Regions from separate parts of the Homo sapiens genome. Here region 1 is linked to region 2. The links come from fine-mapping of genetic effects on gene expression. A gene starts in region 2. The other region holds a variant in brackets. All regions are shown on one strand. Distances are between the middles of the regions.

Evidence for each region. PIP is the estimated chance that this variant, and not a neighbour inherited with it, causes the effect. A credible set is the group of variants that fine-mapping cannot tell apart.
Region 1: its variant is the best candidate, but not a certain one, in a credible set for the expression of COPS5 in T cells (TOPMed, PIP 0.54).

The regions. Positions count from the first base shown.
Region 1 is chr8:67,213,127-67,218,659 of GRCh38, reverse strand. It overlaps ARFGEF1 (ARF guanine nucleotide exchange factor 1), which reads left to right. Exons shown (of 39, transcript NM_006421.5): 31 at 522-657; 32 at 740-878; 33 at 1,998-2,070. Among named protein-coding and RNA genes, the nearest start is that of ARFGEF1, 130 kb to the left of the region's middle. The variant A/TA (reference allele first, on the strand shown) is at 2,224.
Region 2 is chr8:67,059,543-67,064,542 of GRCh38, reverse strand. It overlaps COPS5 (COP9 signalosome subunit 5), which reads left to right and starts at 2,410. Exons shown (of 8, transcript NM_006837.3): 1 at 2,410-2,689. The coding sequence starts at 2,547. It overlaps CSPP1 (centrosome and spindle pole associated protein 1), which reads right to left and starts at 151. Exons shown (of 31, transcript NM_001382391.1): 1 at 5-151. RefSeq lists silencers at 8-195, 134-273 and enhancers at 2,204-2,473, 2,654-2,743.

The sequences.
Region 1 (5,533 bases), 150 kb before region 2:
TTTTATGGGCTTGAAAAAAATAAATTACACTTACGTTGTATAGCCCTTTTTTTATGGTGTTTTCAGATAACCATACTTCAGGAAAGTCATTTTTATTTTAAACCTATGCTAATCCCATTTGGACAAATTCTTACCTCTTTATTTCCCTTTCATGTTCTGTCATATTCTAGAGCAAGGCCGGCGTTGCTATTCATGCACTTCGAAAAATCATAATGTTAGTATCAAGATGATACGGTGATGGTTTTTTTTAATAATCAAAACAAGCAGTGCCAAAAATGGTTAAATTATTGTATACATAGGTGGTTATGGGATAATAAGGAGCAATAGATATCAGATTTTAAGTTGAGGTGAATATAACGTTCTAGAGGGAATTCAGGGGTCTAAAAGGAACACTGACAGCCTTCCATTTTTAATATGAAAACATTTATATATATATATATATATATATATATTTTTTTTTTTTTTTTTAATCATAGTAGTTGATTAATGGCGTGATGTTCATTAATGACTTTTTTCCCCAGAAAGCTGAATGGATGACAACAACTTGCAATCATGCACTTTATGCAATCTGTGATGTATTCACTCAGTATTTAGAAGTACTCAGTGATGTACTTTTGGATGACATTTTTGCTCAGCTCTACTGGTGTGTGCAGCAAGGTAGGTCTGTACCAGATATGTGACACAAAGTGTTAAATGTGACCCTGGTAATATATAAATGAATTGCTCTTTTCTTTCCTAGACAATGAGCAGTTAGCGCGATCTGGTACAAACTGTTTAGAGAATGTTGTTATTCTGAATGGTGAAAAATTTACCCTAGAAATCTGGGATAAAACTTGCAACTGCACACTGGATATCTTCAAAACCACAATCCCACATGCGTAAGAAGATTTTATACAACTTTACATTTATATTTGTATATTGAATGAGTTGGAGAGTGACTAGTGATTAAAAGTTTGATAGTGACTACTGATTTCTCATAACAGAAATCCTTTTAAGCTTGTCTTACTCTTACATGGATTTAGATTTATTACAAACCAAACTGCTATAAACTATAACAAATACATAAATTAAACTATTTATAAACCAAAACCTTTAGTCTGGTTACCAAAATTTGGGACATAATGAAGTGATTCTGCTGACTTTTATAAGATTTTATTTATTCAGATCAAACCAAGCAGTGGTTTTGAATTGGAAAAAAAAAAATCTCAGCCTGTTTCTGTTACTGATCTTTTAATAATCTAAGGAAAATGTATTTACACATACTATATTTCGTATTTCGTAACAGCTTGTCATCTTTCTCTAAGGGATGAGTGTGAAATGGAATTATAGTGAGGTAGGTTTTTTTTTTTTTTTTTGAGATGGAGTTTCGTTCATGTTTACCAGGCTGGAGTGCATTGGCGCAATCTCGGCTCACCACAACCTCCGCCTCTTGGGTTCAAGTGATTATCCTGCCTTAGCCTCCCAAGTAGCTAGGATTACAGGCATGCACCACCATGCCTGGCTAATTTTGTATTTTTAGTTGAGATGGGGTTTCTCCACGTTGGTCAGGCTGGTCTCAAACTCCCAACCTCGGGTGATCCGCCCACCTTGGCCTCCCAAAGTGCTGGGATTACAGGCGTGAGCCACCGCGCCTGGCCAATTTTATGATTTTTTTTTTTTTTTGAGAAGCCTCTTACTTTGGAAAATATTTGATATTAATACTTAGGGAAAGGAGGTCTGAAATCTTTAAAACTTATCAGAAAGTGTTCTTTTAATGCAAAACTGGTGACCATATTACCCTTTTAATTATATTAAATGCCACTTAATTTTTTTCTAAAAGTACATATTTTAAACTTTTTACTAGATGTTTTTTAGGAAATTGCTAAAATTAGCAGTGGTCAAAGATGGACTGTTTAGTTGGTATGTTCTTGTTACTTTCTTGGGCCCATTTCAAAATATGCTGGATGTGGCATGTGGCACAGCCCCCTAGTGATTGACGTGGTTTTGGTATCTTAAAGGCTGTTGACCTGGCGACCCAATTCTGGAGAAACTGCCCCCCCACCTCCATCTCCTGTAAGTGAAAAGCCATTGGTAAGTTTTAATCAGTAAAGTATATTGAAATTAGTTATTTGTGATGAGTAATTTTATTATGGGTCAAATTCTTACATGTAATTGTCTTAATCCATTCCTGCTATTAAAAAAATATCTGAGACTGGATTACTTATAAATAGACATTTTTTTTTT[A/TA]CAATTACGAAGGCTGGGAATTGTATGATCAAGTGTCTGGTGAGAGCTGCTCTCTGCTTCCAAGATGGCACCACGTTGCTGCATTCTCACGTGGTGGAAGGAGGAGGGACAGAAAGGGGCCTAGCTAGTTCCCTCCAGTCCTTTTTTAAGGCACTAATTCTCATGGCCTACTCACCTCCTAAAATCTCTACCTCTTGATACTGTTGCATTGGGGATTAAGTTTTATTATGAATTTAGGAGGGAATGCAAACATTCATATCATTGCAATGCGTTTGACTCTTTTAAGAAGATGGTATAAATTTACTGTCCAGAATTGTGAAGTTAATTCTTTGGTCAATGTCACAGACAATTAATATGTGTCTTTGTTAAGTGCCATGAAGGGAGTATTTTAAATTATTTTTAAATATAGGACATAGAACAAAATGATTTTTTAAGGGTTGTGAGAGAAAGGTACCAGATTACGTAGCTGTCTCCATGCAAAGCTGAAGATATTGTTGGATAGTATTTAAACTTTTTATTTTTATATAATTTCACCTTATAGAAAAGTAACACAAAACAGTACAAAGAATTCTAACATTCACTTCACCCAGTGTATTGGTTTCCTAGTTCTACCATAAAAAATTACCACAAACTTGGTGGCTTAAAACTATAGAAACCTACTATCTCATGGTTCTAAAGACCATGGGTCCTAAATCAAGGAGTTAGCAGGGCCACATTCCCTCCAAAGGCTCTAAGGGAGAATCCTTACTAGCTTCGTCCAGCTTCTGGCGGCTGTTGACAACCTTTGGCATTATTTGGCTTGTTCACATATCACTCCAATCTCTGCCACCATCTATCCATAGTCTCCCTCACTGTGTGTGAATTAAATCTCTCCCTCTCCTTTTTGTTTTATGAAGACATTAGTCATTGGATTTAGGGTTTACCTGAAATCCAGGATGATCTCATCTCAAGATCGTTAATTACATCTGAAAAGACCTTATTTCCAAGTAAGGTAACATTTGCAGGTATCAGGGGTCAGGACTTGAACATACTTTTTAGGGGACAATATTCATGCCACTATGGTCTACCCACTGACACCTAAAAATTCATGTCCATCCCATCGGCAAAAGATGGTCACCCCATTCTAAGGTCCCCAAAAGTCTAAACTCATTACAGCATCAACACTATGTCCAAAATCCCTTATAAATATAATCAAAAGTCCCTAATCTGATCATCCGCATCTGCATTAAGGATGGATGACACTCTTGAGTATGCTCTATTCTGGGGCAGAATTCGTCTCCATCTGTGGACCTGTGAACCTAGAAAACAGGTTTGTAACTTTTAAAATACAGTAGTGGGACAAGCATAAGATATACGATCTCATTGCAAAAAGGAGAAATTGGAAGGAACAAAGGATCACCAGTCCTAAGCAAGGTTGAAACTTAGCAGGGACAATTCCGTTGAGTTTTAAGGCCTGAGAATAATGCTGTGTGGCTTGATATTCTGCCCTCTGGGGCTATGGCTGGCTTCTTCGGGCCTGAGCCCTACACTCTCAGTTGTTCTTCTTTTTCTTAAAGGTTAGCACGTTTGTAGCTCTGTTGACCCATTTTCTGCCTGTAGAATCCTAGAATTCAGCCTCCCTTCCTCTTATTGTTTCTGTCCCTTTCATTCTAGGCTGGCCATATGTCTGCTGGTATATCATTCTCAAAATCCTTGTGGGTCTTCTGTATGTGTTAAGAGAAACCATGCCATTAAACAAGAGTGTGATCCACACATCTTTCTGGATAGTCCTGTTATGTTCCTGGCTTCTGCTGAGATGATCGATTGGCTCCACTAGATATATACCTAATCTCTTTGGCAAAAAGTTGTCCAGCTATTATAGCCTTGGCCTTCTCTCCAAAGCATGCTTTCCTAACAATTCATTTCCTAATTGTAGCATCGTTTTCAATCTCGATAGGCACAAGATCCTCTCACATCATCAACTGGCAGTTTCTTTTTGCTTAACAGTTCTTTCATCAATATATCTTCTTCTTGCATTGTACTATAAACAGCAAGGATAAACCAGGCCACACCTTCAGCACTTTGCTTGGAAATCTCAACTACATATCATCACTTAGAATTCTGCTTTCCACCCAACAATTCAGCCAAGCTTTCTGCCACTTTACAACAAGGATCACCTATCAGTATCTAATATCATGTTCTTGATTTCCTTCTAAGACCTCACCAGAAGCACCTTTTAACATTCATATTTGTACCAATAATCTGTTTCATGGCCATACATGTCTTCTCTAAGATGGTAGATGCTTTCTCTCACACATTGCACTTCCTTGTGGATCCTCACCAGAACTACATTTGACATCCATATTTCTACCAACAGTCTCTTCAGGGCAATGTAGGTGTTTCCCTATCATGTGTCTCAGAACTCTTCCAGCTTCTACCATTGCCCAGTTCCAAAGCCACTTCTACATTTTTAGGTGTTTGTTACAGCCACATTCCATTTCATGGTATCAAAATCTTTATCAGGGCCAGCAAAACAAAACCAGCAGGAGAGATTTGTATAGATAGATTTAAGGAACTGGCTTACGTGATTGTGGAGGCTGGCAGGTTTGAAATTTTGTAGGGCAGGCAGGCAGGCTGGAAAGCCTTGGGCTGCTGCTGAAGCTGCAGTTCACAGGCGGGATTTCTTCCCCAGGAAAACCTGTTTTGCTCAGTTTTGAAGGCTTTCAACTGATTGGATAAGGACCATCTAGATTATTGAAGATAATTTCCTTAAAAAGTGAGCTGACTATAGATGTTAACCACATGTATAAAATACCTTCAGCTGAACACCTGGAATAGTGTTTAATTGAATTAATTGTTACTCCTTCGACTTAAGTATCTGGCTTAAGTACATAGGATATTGGTATTGTGTCCTAGCCAAATTGACACAAAAGTAATCATTACACCAGGTTTCTCCAAATGTTGTCATTTTACATTTGTTTTTACCAACCCCAGCTGTCCTCCCTCTTTTTATCTTGCTACCCTGCCTCCCAGACACACAATTTTCTGAATTCTTTGGAAGTAATTTGTAAACACAATGCCCACTTATCCCTAACAATCAAAAAATTATCCTTGAAACAATACTCTTATTTAATCTACAGGTCTTTTCAAATTTGTACTGTTCTCCCAATAATACCTTTGAATTTTAAAGCCAGGAGGCTGTAAAGTAGCAAACTAACGCCAACTGACCAGATTTGTTCCCCACAACTTTTAACTTTCTTAACAAATTGTCAACGGTTAAAACTTAGATTTCACAGAAAAGTATCATTCTGAATTGCCCTTGAGAACTGTG
Region 2 (5,000 bases):
ACACCTCGCCACTCACGCTCCCCATCCGCGGCTGGCTGACTCTTACTCAGGGGAGCGGGCTCGCGTCCGGGGAGACACACAGTGCTCTAGAGGATCGTCGCGGACCGAAGAGGTTACAGCGGCCACCTGGAGCGGGAACAGCATGACAGACCTCCGGGCCGGGGCTCCGCCCCTCAGGCCCAGCCCTCCGCTCGCCCTTCGCCAACCGCCGGGTACGGCCCCGCCCCCACTGCAGGCGGCCGCGCGGCAAGACATCGCCCCCTGCTGTCCTGGAGGCCGCATAGCTGCCCGCTGCTCTCGGTTCGCCAGTACGCTGGCCGGGGACTTGGTCAACTCGTTCTCCTGCTGTGCCCAGGGGCTATTAAACTGTGGGGGCCACTTCTCAGGCTAAATCTATTGCAGCCTCTCCAGCCTCCCATGCACCAGCCAGCTTAGGAACAGTGTAAGAGCCTGGAAAGAAAAATGGGGAGGGGTGGTAGTGAGAGGAAAAGTGTTGGCATACCTCTCAGGGCATTACTCCTAGCCCAGGAGTGTGGTCAACGTTGGGTCCTGGGCTTTCATTACCATTTTCAACATATTATTCAGTTCACCCCAATACAATCGCATATGGCCATATGCTACCACTAGAAAAGAGACCTCTAGTTTCCCAGGAGAGTGGAACTAAGGGTAGGTATTAATGTACTATTTTACCCTAAATTTCTTTGTAAGATGGTTTTAAAGGAAATTTTCTTCAACGGAAAGTCAGTGCCAAAACAGCAAGCTGTGGTGTGGATTCAATAATTCTAATGTTTTTGTCTTAACTGATTATTACAACGCATTGTAACAGTTATAGAAGCACCTACGGAGACTTACAGACATAATGGAAGGAATGGTAATTGGAGCGTCAAGAAAGAGTTCGTGGTCGATCTCACTGGACTGCATTTTTAAAGATTAATAGGAGTTCCCAGGCAGAAAATTTACGAAAGAGCGTTTCAAGCAATGCTGACCACATATGCAAAGCCAAAGTAAAGATATCTGCATTGCTAGAATGAAAAGTTTCAAGGGGGGACTAAAAAGAGATGAAGCTGGAAGAGGTGCATAGGGGCCAGGTTGTTAACAGCTGTGGTGCTATCTTTTCTTTTTTCTTCTTTTTTCTTTCTTTCTTTCTTTTTTTTTTTTTTTTTTTTTTTGAGACTGGCTCTGTCTAACAGGCTGGAGTGGCGCAATCTCGGATCACTGCAACTTCCGCCTCCTGGGTTCAAACGATTCTCCTGCCTCAGCCTCATGAGTAGCCGGGACTACAGGCGCACATCATCACGCCCGGCTAATTTTTTTTTGTATTTTTTTAGTAGAGACGGGGTTTCACCATGTTGGCCAGGCTGGTCTTGAACTCCCGACCTCAAGTGATCAGCCCGCCTCGGCTGCCCAAAGTGCTGGGATTACAGGCGTGAGCCACCGCGCCTGGCCTGTCATGCTATCTTTTCAGGAAATAAAAGAAAAAAAAATCTTGAACACCTATGCTAGGTGCTAGGAGATAAAACAAGGAACGCAGACCTGCTCCCTGTGTCTTGAAACTTAAAATCTTGCACGGATGGAAGAATGAGATGGAGAAAAAAGAAAACCTAAAACACGTGAACTAATAAAAAAATTAAACATTGTATTAACTGTAGGAAGAAAACAAACCAGTTACCCAGATTAATTACGCTTTGGGAACAAATGCGGTTCACAGGAGTGCCAAAGATTTAACTGTAACCTGTTACGAGAACTGAGTACTGGACATTTTCAGATCAGTAATGGCACATTATATATACGTAGATGTTAACTTTTACCAAAGCGCAAAAAAGCAATCAAGGAGTACCCACTGCCTCCTCGCATCGATAGAAAAAGCCCATCTGCAAGTGAAGTGCCAAGCCACCACGAGCCCGTTAGCTTTTACGCATGTACAGTGAGTCATCTTGAAGTAAACGGGAATGCCATGTTTATCTTCCTCTCAACCAGCTTCCAGAACGACTTTTAGCTCAGTTGTACAACAGACAGCCTTACCTTTTAGTCTTTCAACAAACTTATCTCATTTAAGGTACCTATACCCACACAAAAACACTTTCCGCCCTCCACATCCCGCTCTTAAGGCTCCAGCTACCTTTAATATGGCGGAGGCCGAGCCTGCGCATTAGAAGCAGAGAAGGCAAATACCAGTTTCTGGAATAACGTTACATGCCCTTCTTCCGGTGCGGAAGACTATACCACTCCCATACCCTATAACTTTGTTTGTTCTATTTCACACATATAATTTTCCGAGACAAGATGTTCTCATTTAAGCAACAAGAAGATTCGTCTCTCGCTATTACTGTAACTGCTGTTTATATCGTCATGTCCCGGAAAGGTCCCTGTCTTCCCTGAATGGTCTCTACCAACTTCACCTCCGGTTCTAGGTGTCATGGCTGCCCCAAGAGTCTAGGTAAGAGTTTGTTCCCGTGGTGCGGAGGGTCAAGGCCCACACCCGGAAACCTAGCGAGGTAAAGTTGCGTCTTGGTTGTAGAGACGACAACTTCTCCGCTTCCTCGGCGATGGCGGCGTCCGGGAGCGGTATGGCCCAGAAAACCTGGGAACTGGCCAACAACATGCAGGAAGCTCAGAGTATCGATGAAATCTACAAATACGACAAGAAACAGCAGCAAGAAATCCTGGCGGCGAAGCCCTGGACTAAGGAGTGAGGAGGTCCCTGGCGAGACGCAGGGGAGGGAAAGGGTGGCGGAGTTTAAGAGACCCAGAGGGAGAGGGAGGTGAAAGGGGTGAAGAGCTTTCACCGACTGGGAGGGGGACAGAATATGCGTCTTGGATCTGCAAGTAGAGCCTAAGCCCTCCGCTGGGGCTTTCACTCCCCTTTCTGTCGCTTTAATCCATTTGCCCCCGGGTGATGTAAGGGGAGAACAACAAGCGGTGATTTAAGTTGTCACTTCTGAACATCCGTATTGTCATATATGCCACACACCCTACCTTGAGCCCAGTGTCGACATGCACCTTGTTTGGGTCTTCAACTAATCCCAAACTGGGGATTGCAGCTGTTTTCAGAAATCGAGTCAGCAGCCCAAGGTCTCAAAAATAGCTATGAGCTATTTTCTTTTCTTTTTTTTTTAATAGAAATGGGTCCTCGCTGTGTTGCTCAGGCTGATCTCGAGCTTCTGCCTTCAAGCGATCCTCCCGCCTTCGCCTTCCAAAGTGCTGGGATTACAGGCGTGAGGCCTGGGCCTATAATAGTTTTTTGATTGCTGGTAATTATTTCGGAGGCACACGGAGGCTCTACTACCTGGTCTCTAAAATGTTACTCCACCAGTTCCCATAAGCCAGAAATTATAAAAATAGAGCTTAAGACCTTTTGCCCTTCAACAATATCCATTTTTCCCTGGGAGTGGTGACAAGTCGAGGGATCTTTACCCATAATATTTATCTTTTCCTGAGAGCATCTCCTGAGAGATTTCCTGCTATCAGGAAAAGATAATTATTACGGGTTATGTTTGAGAGTAAAAAGAGCACGAAAGCTAATGGTTAGATAGAAAGGAAAGCTGTGGTCAACAAGAGGACATACTTCTACTGCCTCACAGTTTTTTTTACAAGGCTAGCCTTGTCTCTCAGTATTCAGATTCCACAATGGTGAACTGCGGAAGCACCTAGCTAGAGATTTCCACGTCATTTAATTTTCATGACAACCCAGTACAGTATATCCATCCTTTTGTTACAAATTAAAAAACAAGCAAATACGTTATGTAATTTATGATCATACTGACATAAGTGAACTCTCAACTGAGCAATAGTCAGACCTAAGATCAAATCTCACAGCTGTCACTAACTAGTTGATTGACCTTAGGAAATTTACTTATCCATCTTCATTTGTCATAATATGGAAATAAGACCTACTTATTGGTATTGTCATAGAGATTAGGTGAGATAATGTATAAAAAGAGTCGTCTAGAATGTATGTAATAGGAGCACAGTAACTTGTCTTTCTTCTTTTCTCCAGTAAAGGGAGAAGCCAAGATTTCGATTCATGTCTTGACTTCCAACATGAGGTCTACACATTTTTCAGCTTTTGGTTGAAATCTGGCAAAGCTTAGGAATTAAATTTGGATTCTTTCTGTGGGCAGACATCTAAAAAGGCTTTGTAGAGACGTTGACTGACTGCTCTGTAAGGCTGCTTAAGTTGCTTGGTTATCTGCTTGCTTCTGTAACAGGCTGTGCATTTTAGGTTCGTGTACTCTTAAATATTTGGAAACTGTTGGCCTGCCTCACTGTCTAATTGTGGCTCTAATTATATTCATCCTAGCTGTCTTGGGCTGCATTAATGAGACCAAAATGTAATTTTATTCAAGAGTTTAATTCACTGATGACCAACTCTGAAATAGTGATCATAGGAGACTAGGATATTAGGGCTACTTTTTAATTTAAGGCTGATATAACAGGGAAGCCCACCCTTCAACACTCTGTTCTTTGAGAGTAGGGTTAAGAGACAGGTTAATAATGCTGATAACAGCTAGCACTTATTAGGGTTCTAGTATGTGTAAGGCACTAAGCACTTTATATACATTATTTCATTTATTTCATCCTAACAACAATTATGAATATCCCTATTTACAGAAAAGGAAACCTAGGCACAGATATTACAGGGTTGTCCCAATACCACAGCTAGGGAATGGCAATGTCAAGATTCAGACCTTAGCAGATGAATGTCAGAACCCACATTCTTAACCATTAGGCCAGAAGGTTAGGCCTCAGAACAGTTAGGCACAACCATCCAAGCAGTCAGAATCCAAGATTGGGTGATTCCAAATTAATGGAGAAAAAGTCTGTTGAACTGGTCATGTTACTCCCTTATTTGAATAGCATATTAAAAAAGTATTTCAGACTTTTCCCCTCCCCTAAGGGGGATACGTTGCTGCACTATGACATACTTATTGTTTCCAGCCTGCAAAAACTGTCCTTTTTTACTTTTTCTCCCCGTAGTCTACACTCCCTTTCCATCGCTC